Linked DNA regions of Homo sapiens: region 1 is linked to region 2. A link means that fine-mapping ties the variant in region 2 to the expression of a gene that starts in the linked region. Tissue or cell type: whole blood. Region 2 holds a variant in brackets; the other region holds the start of a gene. All regions are shown on one strand. Distances are between the middles of the regions.

Evidence for each region. PIP is the estimated chance that this variant, and not a neighbour inherited with it, causes the effect.
Region 1: it holds the start of VCPKMT, and the variant in region 2 is fine-mapped to the expression of VCPKMT in whole blood (TOPMed, PIP 0.90).

The regions. Positions count from the first base shown.
Region 1 is chr14:50,112,616-50,120,722 of GRCh38, forward strand. VCPKMT (valosin containing protein lysine methyltransferase) reads right to left here and starts at 3,957. Exons shown (of 6, transcript NM_024558.3): 1 at 3,672-3,957; 2 at 3,454-3,564; 3 at 3,224-3,296; 4 at 1,670-1,789; 5 at 1-104. The coding sequence starts at 3,937. It overlaps SOS2 (SOS Ras/Rho guanine nucleotide exchange factor 2), which reads right to left. Exons shown (of 23, transcript NM_006939.4): 22 at 7,660-7,769; 23 at 4,515-6,238. The coding sequence ends at 5,729. RefSeq lists an enhancer at 3,894-3,953.
Region 2 is chr14:50,227,816-50,235,922 of GRCh38, forward strand. SOS2 (SOS Ras/Rho guanine nucleotide exchange factor 2) reads right to left here and starts at 3,763. Exons shown (of 23, transcript NM_006939.4): 1 at 3,382-3,763. The coding sequence starts at 3,468. RefSeq lists a silencer at 3,355-4,434 and an enhancer at 4,585-4,674. The variant T/C (reference allele first, on the strand shown) is at 3,108.

The DNA.
Region 1 (8,107 bases), 120 kb before region 2:
GATTTTTTCTTTCTGATGTATATAATATGAATATCTTCACTTCGATACTCTTCATCATGTTTTTCCAAAGGAATTTTTTCAAAGTCAAAATCTAGCTGAAGGAGCTATAAATTTAAAAGAGACATACTTCAAATTCAATAATATGAACTGACCTGTGGGTGACAGAAGTCAGAATGCTGGTTACTTTTTTTTTGAGAGTCTCACTCTGTCACCCAGGCTGGAGTGCAGTGGTGCGATCTTGGCTCACTGCAACCTCCACCTCCCTGGGTTCAAGTGATTCTCCTGCCTCAGCCTCCTGAGTAGCTGGGATTACAGGCAAACGACACCACACCCAGCTAATTTTTGTATTTTTAGTAAAGAAAGGGTTTCACCATGTTGACCAGGCTGGTCTCGAACTCCTGACCTCATGATCTGCCCATCTCGGCCTCCCAAAGTGCTGGGATTACAGGCGTGAGCCACCGCGCCTGGTCAGTGGTTACCTTTTGAGTATTGCCTGGGAAAGGGCAGTGTGCAAACCTTCCAAGATCCTGAAAATGTCCTCTATCTTTATGTTGGTAAGTAGTTACTTGGGTGTATACATATGAAAAATTAAGCTCAGCACTTGACTGATACATATGCATTTTACATATGCTTTACCCCAATAAAAGCTGTTTAACAGTACGAAATTTTCATTATGCATCATTTCAAAAGTTCATGAACATTTTTCATATTCAAGAAAAACATGAAAATAAACAAACATTTTAGTATTTGTTACCTGAGGCAGTCATATACCTGCTTTCTCATTAAACCAAAGTAGTCCTTCCAGCAGACAAAACTGCAGGCCTATATAGATGTACCCTCAAAAGGAGTCACTCACAATGTGATAGATTTGTGCCCATATAAGGGTTTGGGTGATCACTAGGGGAAGAAGAGTGACAGATACATAAAACCCTATATACTATATTTTGCAACTTCCTGTAAGTCTTTTCTAACTATTTCAGACAAAAAGTTTAAAAAACAAAAAAAAAGACCCTAAAAATAGACAGGTATCTAGGTTGGAGGTTTCATAAATATGTAGAGAAAAACACAGAAGTAAAAACTTATCACTTGGCAACATGGGAAAACCCCATCTCTACAAAAAAATACAAAAAGTTAGCCGGGTGTGGTGGTACATGCCTATAGTCCCACTTACTTGGGGGCGGGGGGGGGGGGGGGTGACACTGAGGCAGGAGGATCACTTGAGCCCAGGAGGTTGAGGATGCAGTGAGCCCTGACTGTGCCACTGCACTCCGGCATGGGCTACAGGGTGAAACCCTGTCTCAAAACAAAAACAACTTATCACCTGCACATTTCTATCACGTATTCTCCAAAGGTAATACATACATCATTGAGATGTTCCCCAAAGGCAGCATCATGTTTAATAAACACTGAAAACTGTTCTTAAAAAGGAGTGGCACCCGTATTAACATTCTTCTGTAGCCATAGATCAACTAATTAGAAATGAAATAAAGTATCAGAAAAGATGAAAAAGGGGAGCTTCGTAGAATCATGGGCTGTGAAGATCCTTTCCTCAGCTTCACACAAACAGCATGTTTTCCCCACCCAAAATTACCATAATATACTTGAAGAGTCACATACAGCCCCCCTGAAGGGAAATCACTACAAAGATAATAGAGTACTTAATACTTACCTCAAAATATTTTTTCTCAATTTCTGGATTTTTCCCCATTGTTCGTTGTTCATAACAACATATAATACAAGTTTCAAATCCGCTGATATCTTTTAGAGTTTTCAGCAATGGCTCCAAAGACTATTTAAAAAAGAATATATTTTTTGTTTTTGATTTAAAAATTTTTCTACTCTAAAAGTAGGTTGAGGAGGTACAGGGGTATTTATAGCTCCCCTACAATTTATCCATCTTTGAATCAATCCAACAAAGCACATGTAATTAAAGCTCTAGGCTAGGTGCAGTGGCTCACACCTGTAATATCAACACTTTGGAAGGCAGAGGTGGAAAGATCGCTTGAAAGCAGGAGTTGAAGACCAGCCTGGAGAATACAGCGAGAGACAAACCACCCCCCGCAACACCTTACAAAAAATTTAAAAATTAGCCAGCATGCTGGTGCACACCTATAGTCCCAGCTATTGAGGAGGCTGAATGGGAGGATTACTTGAGCCTCAGGAGCTCGAGGTTACAGTGAGCTATGATCACTCCACTGCACTACAACATGTGTGACAGAGCAAGACCCCTATCTTAAAACAAAAACAAACAAACAAAAACCCCTCTGTAACTAATGATTGGGTAAGCTCCTGTTAACTAAACCATGTACTGATTTTGGTTTCCAGAAAAAGGATTCAGATGACTGCATTTTGGAGTTCTCATGGGAAACAAATGGAATCAACCTTACTCTTAAAAGTTTAATTTTATTTAATCTAATTTGGGATTTAAATAATCAACGATTTCCCTACAAAAGTTAAATCTGACCCTAACTTGGTTCAATGCTAATTATTTTTAAAATAATCGATGCCCACAACACTATACAAACTGATGTTTTTTTTTTTTTTTTTTTTTTTTGAGACAGAGTTTTGCTCTTGTTGCCCAGGCTGGAATGCAATGGCATGATTTCGGCTCACTGCAACCTCCGCCTCCCAGGTTCAAGCGATTCTCCTGCCTCAGACTCCCAAATAGCTAGGATTACAGACATGCACCACCACGCCTGGCTAATTTTGTATTTTTAGTAGAGACAGGGTTTTGCCATGTAGGTCAGGCTGGTCTCGAACTCCCGACCTCAGGTGAGCCACCTGCCTTGACCTCCCAAGTGTTGGGATTACAGGCGTGAGCCACCGCGCCCGGCCCAAACTGGTATTTAAAGAAAAGAACAATGAATTATTTATAACTTAATTCTCAATGTCATGGTTAACATGTTCCGTGGGAACAACCAAGGGAAAAAGAGAGGATTTTGGCTTTTCATAACATCCAATTGGCAAAATCCTTTAAAATTTTTACAGAAGCCTCTAGTAAAATGCATATAACACTTTTCTCAACATGCTTCACCAGGTCGGTATGATAATGATGAGCGTATATACATATGGTCCCTGGTGACTTTTATCTTCTCTTTACTGCATCAACTATAAGGCAAATCCCGGATTCAAAGATGTTAAAATGTGAAGAAACGTGTGCTTTAGAATTCATGGAATAAGGTTCATCTTCTAAGTGAAGAGACTTCGCTCACTGGATACTTACCTCTTCATAGTATATGCAGTCGGCCATCAGTATGAAGTCGGGTGGAGAAGGAAAGCCTTCTATTTCTTCCCCCCTTAAAAATGCCAAACAAATATTTCAATTGTTTTAATAATTCAAAATACTCTTGTTTTATAAAGAACCGGAAAGTCCCCTTCCATCCTTTTAATGAAACGCAATTCAAAACAAACTACAAATCAATATCTTAAAACAAGCTGAAAGGCCATACAAACCATTTCAGTACCTTGGCTTGAACAGAACCAGTGACAAGATGCTTGTTCATATTAATATTCATCTTCAGCAAGTCTTGCAATTCCTCAAGATCGGTGACTACAACATCAGCCCTATAAAATAACGTCGACTGAGGTGTAGGCACAGGGGGGAAAGCCTGTAATCCGGATTTCCCCAGCAAGAAGGCGCCCCCACATCCCGCCCGCCCGCCAGCTCTTACCCGAGGGTAGCAGCCATGAGCCCCACGGCCCCGGTGCCCGAACCCAGCTCCAGCACCGACCGCCGGCTCAGCGCGTGGGCCCCGTCGCCAGAAAACTCGGGCGTTTCCAGGTATTTAGAAAGGACAATGGCAGCGTCCCACACAACGCAACCCACGCCACCGGAGCTATACTGCTGTAGTCGTAGCACTGTACCATCCCGCTTCTCCAAAACTCGCACAAAGCTCCGCAGTGGGTCCTCCAGCGAGGACTCCAGCGTATCCGCCATTGCGCCCGGCAACAGAAAGCGGCGCGCGCAGGGACGTCACATCAACGCGCACCGCCCCGCCCTGCGGCTCCGCCCCCTGCCCGCCGCTGAGTTGGCGACGCAGCGCGCGCGAGTTAACAAAGCCCGGAAGGCAGCGTTACCTGGGCGGGGCCGAGCGTGGGGCCCCTGCTTACCCGACGCGCTTGGCAGCCTCCCTCTACCCTAAATCACACGTTTGGCTTAACGAAGAGGCCGTTTAAATCACTTTCCCAGACAAAACTATTATAATCTGCTCTTTAAAAAACAAAGCCAACCTCAGAGTTTACCAAGTTGGACACTTGATTTACATAGTAGTTACAAGGCTTAAATGCAATCAGCTTCCAAGATCCTACCAAAGATGGCTATAATCTTACAATCTTCCTTTTCAAGTTCCTAGTATGCTCCTAGTTTTTTGTATGAATTCATAAAAGTGGTTGCTAGAAGCCTGCAGCTCACATTTAACAGTGAAGAAAAAATTGTGTGTGTGTGTGTGTGTGTCTATAGGACTCAACAATCTCCCCCTTTGTTCCTTATAATGAAAACACATATTTTAAAAGTCTTTTAAAAATTAAGACTGGGGTGATTTATTAATCTTGTTAAGAACTCTGATACAAAGCACAGTAAAAGGCCACAAACCAGTAAATAAACAACGTGGCTTTTGGCTACTTTACAACTGCTGCTACAGCACTATCAGCAAAACACTCTATCACTTTGAACGAAGGCATCCAAATGGCAAATAAAAGCTTTACTCACTTATCTGATTAAAATGTTTAATAAAGCTTTAAGTATTTGCTGGTTTAAATATTACCAATCTAAAAAATATATTTAAAAAAAATTTCAGTTAACACGAGATTTATAGAGAAAGTTACTAGGTCTTGAAGGCAAGGCAGTTGGTTCCTATGCCATAGAATTTTTTTTGAATTTATGAATTAGTAAAGTAGCAGATTGTATTATAGGCCTCAAGTCACTTAAATTTATATAGGTTATTAGCAGTATCTTTAAATATACAATATAAACAAAACTGTACATACATGGCATATTAACTGTTTTCCATAACAATAGGCAATTCATTAGCTAAAGACGTCATAGTCTGCAAAAACAAAAGGCACATCTGAATGAGATACATGCCCTTTTTCCCTCCATCATTGGGTTATGTAGTCTTTGTTTACATTTTGACAAAATAATAAACACTTACAGTGCCATTCTATTATTTTCATCCTACTTTTCATTTTTGTCTTCAGCAGCAAATACCGGCATTTAAGACATGGCATTAAAGAGTTTAAGAACAGTTGGTGTTATTCACAATTCTCCTAGATGTAAAAACTAGAAGTAAAAACTAGAAGATGGTCAAAGAGGTTTAAAAATCAGTAACACCATATACCCCTCCCATATTTGTGTAAATTCACTGCCTTAAAAAGGCATCTATTACTCAAATTTGAAAAATTTCACAAAAGCACTATCCCTTTTCAGTGCAATCATGTCACTTTAAACCATATTTTTGCAGAGTTTACAGTGCAAATATAAATTCTTTATACTGGCCTTTTGGCAGCACTGAGGATCCAAGACAAGGCAATGCTACTGATCACCTGAGGATAATGGTGAAGGACTTTTGTATTTTTATTTTTCCAATTCTTAAAAGCTTATTTGATCAGTAGCATTTTTGTAAGAGCATTATTTGTAAAAAGTACTAAAATACTATGTCTTTTTTTGAATAAATTAAAAAAAAAACTTTACAAATACCATTCCAGTGTCAATGACTACATATGGCTAAGGTCATTGGGGAGTTTCTGCATTTTCTAGCAAAGGCAGTCTGTACAATGGGGGGTGCGAAAGCTCCCGTTTGTAAGTCTTTGGTGGCAGTTTTGGCAGATGAGGGCTTGAATTCTGCCTTGGTGGAACAGGGGGAGCTGGAGGATGAGCAAGATTATTCTGACTAGAACTGAGCACATAGCATCGACGCGGTACCCTTGGAGAGGGTGTGCTAGGAGGAGTGCTTGGCGAATTTGGACACGTACTAATGTCTCTGAGCCAGTCTGAATCTCTGTGAAGATGCCCCAGTGGAGGTGGCTGAAGATTAAATGGACAGTTTATAAAGTGTTCTGGAGGCCGAAGGGGAACTGGTGGAGGGGTATCAGGAAGAGGATCTCTTGGTGGTGGCGGAGGTGGACTATGCAGAGGCCCATCAAATGCACCAGTAGGAACAGGAACTCTGGGTTTTACCTTTGGAGGAGGAGGCTGTCTCGGTGGAATAGCAGGAGGATCATCATCAGATTTCATATTTCCCTCAAAAAAAAAAGTAATTAAATTATACCTCTATTCTGAAAAATTAAAAAAAAAAATTTTTAAGTCTGAAAAATTCTTACTTGTCAAGTTAAATTCAGAGGCTCAAAATAAACTAATCTGGGTTAATTATCAGATTATGAGTACTCCTAGATTAATTCAGGGCTGGGTTTAATATTTTTATATATGAGATGTTTTAATTTAAGTCTTAGGTCCTAACTCTTTATCTTGCTTTGTGTATACATTTCAGAAATTTATGTATTTTAATTATAATAGTAGGTAAGTGACAATAATTTATTGCTTTATAGACATGAAAGGACATGATGTCTAGAGGACTTTAATGTCTAGCTTCTGCTTACTGGGCATCTACTGCTACTTTCTCCAGTGAGGCTTAGAGCAGTAGATCTCAAAGTGTGATCCAGAGACCAACAACATCAGCATCAGTAGGGAACTTGTTAGAAAAGCAAATTCTTGGGCCCCATCCTAGACTACTGAATCAGAAACTCTGGAGGTGTGGCTCCACAGTCTGATTTTACCAAGCCTTTCAGGTAATTCTGATGCACCCTTAAAATTTTGAGAAGCATTAGTTGAAAGTTTGAAGAATACTTGGAATACTACTGAAGTTTTTTTCCACCTGTACCAGAAAGAAAATGTACTTCCAGCCTCTTTTTTATTTTTTTATTTTTATTTTTAGTTTTTGAGACAGAGTCTTGCTCTGTCGCCCAGGCTGGAGTGCAATGGTGCGATCTTGGCTCACTGCAACCTACCTTCACCTCCCAGGTTCAAGTGATTCTCCTGCCTTAGCCTCTTGAGTAGCTGGGATTACAGGTGCCCGCCACCATGCCCGGCTAATTTTTGTATTTTTAGTAGAGACAGGGTTTCACCATATTGGCCAGGCTGGTCTTGAACTCCTGACTTCAGATGATCTGCCTGCCTCAGCCTCCCAACCAGCCTTTTTTTTTTTTTTTTTTTTTTTTGAGACAAGAGTTTTGCAATTGTTGCCCAGACTGGAGTGCAGTGGCACGATCCTGGCTCACTGCAACCTCCAACTCCCAGGTTCAAGCGCTTCTCCTGCCTCAGCCTCCCCAGTAGCTGGAATCACAGGCACCCGCCACCACACCCAGCTAATTTTTTGTATTTTTAGTAGAGATGGGGTTTCATCATGTTGACCAGGCTGGTCTCGAACTCCTGATCTCAGGTGATCTACCCGCCTGGCATGAGCCACTGCGCCCGGCCCAGCCTCTTATTTAGAAAAGGTTTTTATAAGGATTAAACAACTAAAAGTATTTTTCAAATATAACAACCCAAATGCTGAAAAACCATAAATGGTAGCCAAAGTATAATTCACAGACTCTTTATAACACTAGGCATTATTTTGAAGATTCACAACTTTGAATAAGTTGGAGTAAAGTCCTGTTGATTACCTTGGAATTTGAAGCATCATGATCAAACTTTTTTCGAGGAGGAAGAGGAGGAGGAATCAGGGGCTCTTCACTTAGTTTATGTAAACTACCACATGAACTAAAGAAAGACTCTGGGGGAGAAAAAGACTAGTTTAACCACAATTCACAGTATAAGATAAACCTTTATCACAATTTGTGATCGATACTTCTACCATGGCATTTGTCAGACTGTATCAACTATTGGTTTATCTATCTTCCCCCATTAAATTGTAAGCTTTCTGCAGGGAGTGTGTATTTATTTCTGTGTCTCTAGCACCAACCATAGTGCCTGGGGCATGATGGGTACTTCAGCTAAATGAAGGTGTACTATTTAATTATGATTAATGAGATTCTGCTCCCTGAAAAGCCTTTCACAAATCAAAACAAAACATGTCTAAATACACTGTAGTAACTTCCAAAGAAAGACCAT
Region 2 (8,107 bases):
AATACATATATATATGGATCTATATATGGGTATATATGGATATATACATGGATATAGACATAGATATCCAGTTTTCATAAAAACTAGCCAAAACTGGAAAATAAGCAAAAGAATACTGGCTGTGTTTCAGTACAGTGCTATGCTTGAATCTTTTATTAATTTCTACTGACTATTTTACACATCTATAAGATTAAGTTACAGCTTTTCAGCAGATAGAGATGCAAGTAATTTTTTTTTTTTTTTTGAGATGGAGTCTCGCTCTGTCGCCCAGGATGGAGTGCAGTGGTGTGATCTCGGCTCACTGCAACCTCTGCCTAGCAGGTTCAAGTGATTCTCCTGCCTCAGCCTCCTGAGCAGCTGGGATTACAGGCACACACCACCACACCCAGCTAATTTTTGGTATTTTTTAGTAGAGACGGGGTTTCACCATGCTGGCCAGGCTGGTCACGAACTCCTAAACTCAGTTGATCCACCAGCCTCAGCCTCCCAGAGTGCTGGATTACAGGTGTGAGCCACCACGCCCACTGAGATGCAAGTAATTTTTAGCCAGAGGAAAATATAACCCAAAGCCTACTCTTTTATGTTTCTTGTAGGGTATTAACTAATTCTGTATGTAACCCAACAGTCTTAATATTCCCTTATTAAATTGCCTATAAATACCTCCTCAAATTTTCATATTAAGTGACTTTAACATCTTACTAGTTCCCTCATCAATGGGCTGAATCAAAATAATTGATACATGTTCATTTACATTTGCATGGAAGTGATGACTTTACCTTTCTGAAAATTACGTTCTAACAGTTTTGGAGGTTCCACCAAGATGTCCAAGTGGACTAAACTGACAGAGCCAAGTAAGCTACATTGCTGCTTTCATAGACACACAAATACCCCTTACTGAACTCTGAGCTCAGAACCGCTCTCATTTACATAAACCAAAACCTCAAATTTTAGAATTTTTGGTTTAGATGGTATACATCTTTGGAGGGGCCTTTATTTTAACTTTGTACTCTTAGGATCCCGCATCATGTCAAGTATGTAAAATGTGTTCAATAATGGTTAAGTGAATTAATGAAGCTAGAATACACCACATGTACAATGGCAACACCAATTGAAGGAGAGAGATATTCCAATCAAATCCTAGTTGTCTTTGTAACGATCTGGTCAGCTAGAGGAAGGATGCCAAGTTCTAGATGCTCTGAATGTGAAGACAGAGACTCCCCCAAAATGGTAGAAATTCTCATTTTACAAAGACAAGGTGGCTGATGCATACCAGAATTTAAAACTTCCTGCAAAGAAAGAGTGAACCTTTAGCTCCCTAAGAGCTACAGCTCTTAGCAGGCACTACAGACCTACAAGTTGCAATGTCCTAAATACCATAAAAGTGGACATAATCTTAATTACTTTTACCAAAATTTTTCCAAAAATATAAAAAAATTTTCCATACGTATGTATTTCAATTCTATCACAACAGTAAGTTAATAGAAAATGTTTTCTGAATTCACCTCAAAAGACCAAATTTTCTTAGATGTATTTATTTCATAAAGAACATACTAGAACTGTGGAATATAACATAGTATCTACAAGGCACCTGAGTTCCAGGAAAACAAGCACAATATAAATGCAAAGTAATAGCACCAAAGCAATGGACTAGGATTGGATGCTAATCTTGGCTTCTCCAGCCTAACTTGAAAAAAAAAAAAAAAAATCTGGGTCTGGTGCGAGGTGGTTTATGCCTGTAATCCCAACAGTTTGGAAGGCAGAGGTGGGCGGACTGCTTGAGGCCAGAAGTTCAAGACCAGCCTGGGCAACATAGCATAACCCTGTCTCTATTTGAAGAAAAAGAAAACATAAATCTGTTTCTGGACATAAAGGATTATTAGAATCAAAGCTACCTATTGAACAAGTTATGCAACACACACCCAAATACTATTTGCTACCAGAAAGTTATAAATGGGTATATACCTGCGTCACATTGCCAACAATATAGGCCTACCTGATTACTGCACTCACACTTGTCTGTGGTCAAAGGGCTAATTACTATCTAGGCATTTCCCCCTTTGCTTTTAATTCAGGCCAGAGTTCATTTTCACCACTCAGCACACTTTTCATTTCTTTCCCTCTCCTTACAGAATTGGGCTGCACATGGAAGTAAGGTCAATTTAATACTTTAGCACTTGGTATACCAATGGAATAACTGTCTAGCTGCCACTAGTCATTTCTGCCAGGTTCTTTAAAAAGATACGACTTAGTGTTTGCCCTGAGGAAAGCAATACTTCCTTGTAAGAATTATGAAAATAAGGGAAAATCTGCAACTCTCATCGCATGAGGAAAATGTCTTTAACTTTAAAATACACTACTTCCTTTCATTTATAGAAATTTAATGTCTGAGGATATATTTTCCAAGTATAGTCTTTTAAATTAATCTTTATTTTTTCCTTATTTTAGAATGTATTCTTGGTTATTTTGCACAAAAGGCAGAAGAGACTAAGTCTGCATTAACGGCAAAGAAAGAAAGCCCCTGCTCAACAGGCATGACAGCTGATCACGCACCTATTCACAGTCTTTAAATGTCTTGATCTTACAGAAGGATTTATTATAAAAATGATCGTATGGTTACTACCTAAATTCACAGAGGAAGACCGCCACCATCTACAGGAAAGATGCACCCTAGCAATGCACCCAAACATGAAAGACTGATTTGCAGGAGTTGCCCCTTTCTTGTTCCTTAAAATGATTTCAAGTCCTAAATCGCAATTTGGTCGTGAAGACACTGAAGACACTGACCAAATTTTCTAAGGGTAATCTCTTGTAAACAGGTAAGACACCGTTTGCAGGAAGTGGGAAGGCGCTTTAAATTTACCTTGAGAACTGTAAAATGAATAAGAATATTATGACTCACTGACATTTCACACATGTGAAACATCCATATTACAAAAAACCATTGCCTCATAAGTGGATACCCTTGACAAGCAAACCGCCTAGGGGGAACACTCCCAAAGAACTTAATTAAAAGTAATTACCCGGCCTGAAAATGTGCTTTTGTTTTAGAAACTGTCTAAATACCAGCGGGACTTTCTCTTGCCCGATTCCAGCCTGAGGACAACAAA[T/C]TGGTCAACGGCGGAAGTTGCCTGACGAAATGACTGCAACATGAAATCCAGTTTTATGATCATAACAAAACCTTCCTTCCGGGACCAGGCAAAAAAAAAAAACTTGAGAAACGTCCTTCAGAATGCAACAGGCAATTGTGAGCCCCCCATTGCCAGCCAACGAGAAACGGCTCGGCCCCGGGGACTCGAGCCCTGTGGGAGGGACGACCTGCTCCCCGTTAGAAGCTCGGGGGGCCACGGGCCACCCGCCGGCCGCCCCGCCCCTAGCACTGACCTTCCGCAGGGCCGAGACCAACAGTCCCCGCCATTTCGGACTGTTCTCCTCGCTGAAGAACTCGTAAGGCTGCGGCGCCTGCTGCATGGCCCCGGCGACAGCGCCTCCGCATCGGGGGCAGCCCGCGGGCCGGGCCGGTGGCCTGACAGGCAGGGCGCGGGCCGCCTCGCCTCGCCGGCGGCCGCCGCCTCCCGCCCGGGCCGAGGCTACGGCCGAGGCGGCTCGGAGGCGGCGCCGGCGGGCTGGCGGAGACCCCGGGGTCGGCTTCCTCCGCCGAGGCGGCCCTCGCCTCCCGCAGCGCCCGCAGAGGAAGCGCGGCGACCCGCAAGCCCGGGCGACCCCGGGCGGCGACCTCCTTTCCCGGCGGCGCTGGCCCGCTTCTGGGGCGGCTCCTCCTCCTTTGTCTGGGTTCGCGGCCCGTCAGGGGTACAGCTGGCCCAGCCCCGCCCCGACTCCCGCTACGGCCGCGGCGGGCGGTGAGCAGCGGCGGCGGCGGCGGCGGCTGCTCGTCTCCTCATCGCCTCCTCCCCGCCCTCCCAGCCGACAGCGCCGCCCGGCCCTGCCCACTCGAGTCACCTCCACAGAGCTCTGGGGACCGACCCGGAGTGCGCGTCGGGCGAGCGAGCCTCGCTATGGCGCGCACAGCGCTGGCCGCCGTTGCTGCCCCTTTAGCAGCAGCGCAGAGTGCCTTGGGGTCGCCGCTGAGCCCTGAGTCCCAGCAGCCGAGGCTCGGCCCGCCCCCTCGGCCCGGCGCTCATTATCCCGAATAGCCCAAGAGGCCTAACACGGAGCATGCGCGCCGCGGAGCAGGCACAGGCGCCAGCCCGGCGCGGGGGTGCGGGGCCTGGGGCCCCGGGGGAGTCCGCTTTTCCCGAGACTGTGCTGGGGGCCGCTCCAGACTCTTCAGTTTGACTGCTTTTTACCCATATGCTCCCTCCTCTCGACCTGCTTAAGACAATCCGGACTCGGTGCCACTCTTGTAGCGCTGGAGCCCCAGGACTACCGTCGTGGGAGGCTGCATAGGGACGTGGAGAGAAAGGGGCATTCGGGCTGGACAGGATATTTAACGTATTTGTGCTCTACGTGGCTTGTTTTCATGAGTACCGTATGTTTACACAAAGTAGGTACTATATATAATATATCGTTAGGAGATACAGTAACTATTTCTTAGGGTGATGGTGTGGGGACCGAGAGATGAGGCGTGGAAAGCCCTTAGCCTGGTGGTAGGGTCAGAAGGGGCAGATGACAGTGACGTTGATCAAGCTTGAATTGAAAGGTCCTTCACTTGCACGGGCCCCTGTGCGTTCACAAAATCATATCGTTTTTACAAAACTTTCAAGATATTTTCGAATTGTTTTCTTAATCGTGTCATCCAAATTGTGTAGGCTTCAGGTCCTACAAAACCTGGATCGGCGTCTAGGAAACACTCATTAGCAACCCAGAAAAGATCCTGACAAGCTTTTCAATCCAAAGAGGCATAGGCTCTGGTAACTCATTACCACAAATTTCATCCCACTAAAGAGGCTGAGCACATTACTTTTAACAGGTTGTAAAGAAGATATTTTACTCCCTGTCCCTAGCCACCAGCAGTGAGAAAGGGAAAAGACGAACAGGGTACAAAAAATAAGTCAGTACTACAATTCAGTTCCGGCATCAGTAGCTGAGCAATTATTCTCCCCAAAACATGCACCACTTTTTCATTTGGGCAAAATCAGAATGGCAGAGTTGGAAAATAAGATTATTTTTCTAATCCACTAAAGTATCCACTAAATCAAGAACATCCTCTAATAAATGGCCATATCCATTCACATGTACTTGGGATAAAAGGTGGGATGGTAAAATGCTTGTATTTCTCCCATTAATGTTTCAGTCTGTGAGAGCGAAGACTTTGGCTTATATAGAGGGTCCTTACTTTTCTCTCCTGTTCCCAGACTCCAGCTATAAACTACTGTGATGTCAAACTACTAGACCATGTATGTTCTCTTTACTCATAGGAGAGTAAACTTGTTAGAAATCTCATTCTTGGCTAGGAATATCAGAAGGCTTTTCTGGGCCAAGTCAGGCCTGAAGACATATTTTGTTTAGCTAAGGCTGTATTTAAATTTAATTGTTAACATTTTAAAATCAAGAGGCTTCATATAAAAATGTATATTTTCAGCTTCTCTTGACAAAGATCTGGCAACACTGGGACCTACTGCATTCGTGCAAGAGAGTAATCAGCAGGCACCGGGTAGTGGCTGCCCTCTTTATAAAAATATGCCATCCATTTCCAGTTGGCTATACTTCCCACCTGGCACTCTTCACCCTTTTATGTAACTTGCCTAGTCTCTACAGGCATCTGAGTTCTGATGTCTGGGCTGAGCAAACAGAAATATGATCCACGTGCATGTGGAGGATAGTCCAAGAATGACAGCAGTAAAAAGTTTCCCATTCAGGGCCGGGCGAGGTGGCTCACACCTGCAATTCCAGCACTTTGGGAGGCCGAGGCGGGTGGATCACCTGAGGTCGGGAGTTTGAGACCAGCCTGACCAACATGGAAAAACCCCCTCTCTACTAAAAATAACAAAACTAGCTGGGCAAGGTGGCGCATGCCTGTAATTCTTAGCTACACGGGAGGCTGAGTCAGGAGAATCGCTTGAACACGGAAGGTGGAGGTTGTGGTGAGCTAGATCACGCCATTGCACTCTAGCCTGGGCAACAAGAGCAAGACTCCGTCTCAAAAAAAAAAAAGTTTCTCATTCAGACAAATGGGCTATCTAGAAAAAATGTTGGATCCATACCCTATACAATACACTAGCAAAAACTCCAGATATGTCAAAGATTTAAATGTAAACAATAAAACCATACAATGATTCATTTATAACCTCAGAACGGAAAAAGACACTTTCACTATGACACAAGATCTAAAAGACCGATAAATTCAATTTTTATAAATGTATGAGCCGGGCATGGTGGTACATGCCTGTAATCCCAACAACTCCAGTGGCCGAGGTAGAAGCATAGCTTGAGGCCAGGAGTTGAAGACCAGCCTGGGCAACACAGTAAGACCCTGTCTCTTTAAAAAAAAAAAAAAAAAAAAAAAAAAAGGGCAAAAAAAATCACCAGATAAGCCAAAAGGAAAATGACAAACTGGAAAAAATAGCAGCAACTCATTTTTGTGGGTTTTTTGTTTGTTTGTTTGTTTGTTTGAGATGGGGTCTTACTCTAACTCAGGCTGGATTGCAGTGCAGCGGCATGATCTTGGGTCACTGCAACCTCCGCCTCCTGGGCTCAAGTGATCCTCCCACTTCAGCCTCCCGAGTAGCTGGAATCACAGGCACGTGTCACCATGCCCGGCTAATTTTTTGTATTTTTGGTAGAGACAGGGTCTCACCATGTTGCCCAAGCTGGTGCAATTCATTTTTGTAGTTAATTTCAGTAAAATATAAAAGAGCTCCTACAAATTAAAAGGCTAAAATTCAATAAGAAAAACAAAGGGGCCAGGCACAGTGGCTCAACACCTGTAATCCCAGCACTTTGGGAGGCCGAGGCAGGAGGATCCCTTGAGCCCAGGAATTGAAGACGAGCCTGGGCAACATAATGAGACCCCATCTCTATAAAAAAACTTTTTAAAAAATTTAAAACAAAAAAAGAAAAAAGAAGACATACAAATGGCAAATGGGATATGACAAGGTGCTCAACATCATTGATCATTAGAGAAATGCAGATCAAAACTACAATAAGATATCATCTCACCCCAGTTAAAATGGCCTATATCCAAAAGACAGATAATAACAAATGCTGTTGAGGATGTGGAGAAAAAGATAATTCTCTTTTGGGGGTTATACTGTTATCATTTTTCACCTATTAGAATAGCACAGATGAAAAAGTTTGATTACACACTATGATGGTGAAGATATGAGGAAACAAGCATTCTAATATATTGTAAGTGTATTAGGACTATAAATTGTTTCAACTTCTGTCAAGGGGAACTAGATAATATCAAAGTTTCTCTTTGACCTAGCAAATTCTAGGAATATGTCCTGTAGATATACTTGCTCTTACATGAAGTCACTTAGAGACAAGGTTATTCATTGCAGTGTTGTTTATTATACCAGAAGTAAAGCAAAACAAAAAACGCCCTAGAAATAAACAGTTTAAATAATCATCAGTAGGAATAGGGGACTAGTTCAATAAATAATAGTAAATCCATACAGTGGAACCTATAAAGTTATTTTAAAATAACCAGGCCTCTGTGGAACATTATCTAAGATATGCTGCAAAATGAAAAGTGCAGGATGTATAGTACTGCAAGTATGGTTCCTCATATATATATATATATATATATATAAGGAATGCAGCATTTTATTATATAAGCATTTGACTCAAATAATTTCTCTGCATTTACCGTATTGGTCTGTTCGCATGCTGCCAATAAAGACATACCCAATACTGGGTAATTTATAAAGGAAAGAGGTTTAAACAACTCACAATTCCACAGGGCTGGGGAGGCCTCAGGAAACTTTACAATCATGGTGGAAGGGGAAGCAAACATGTCCTTCTTCACATAGCGGCAGCAAGGAGAAGTGCTGAGCAAAAGTGGGAAAAGGCCCTTATAAAACCATCAGATTTTGTGAGAACTCACTATCATGAGAACTGCAGCATGGGAGTAATCGCCCCCATGATTCAATCACATCCTACCGGGTCCCTCCCATGACACTTGGGGATTATAGGAACTACAATTCAA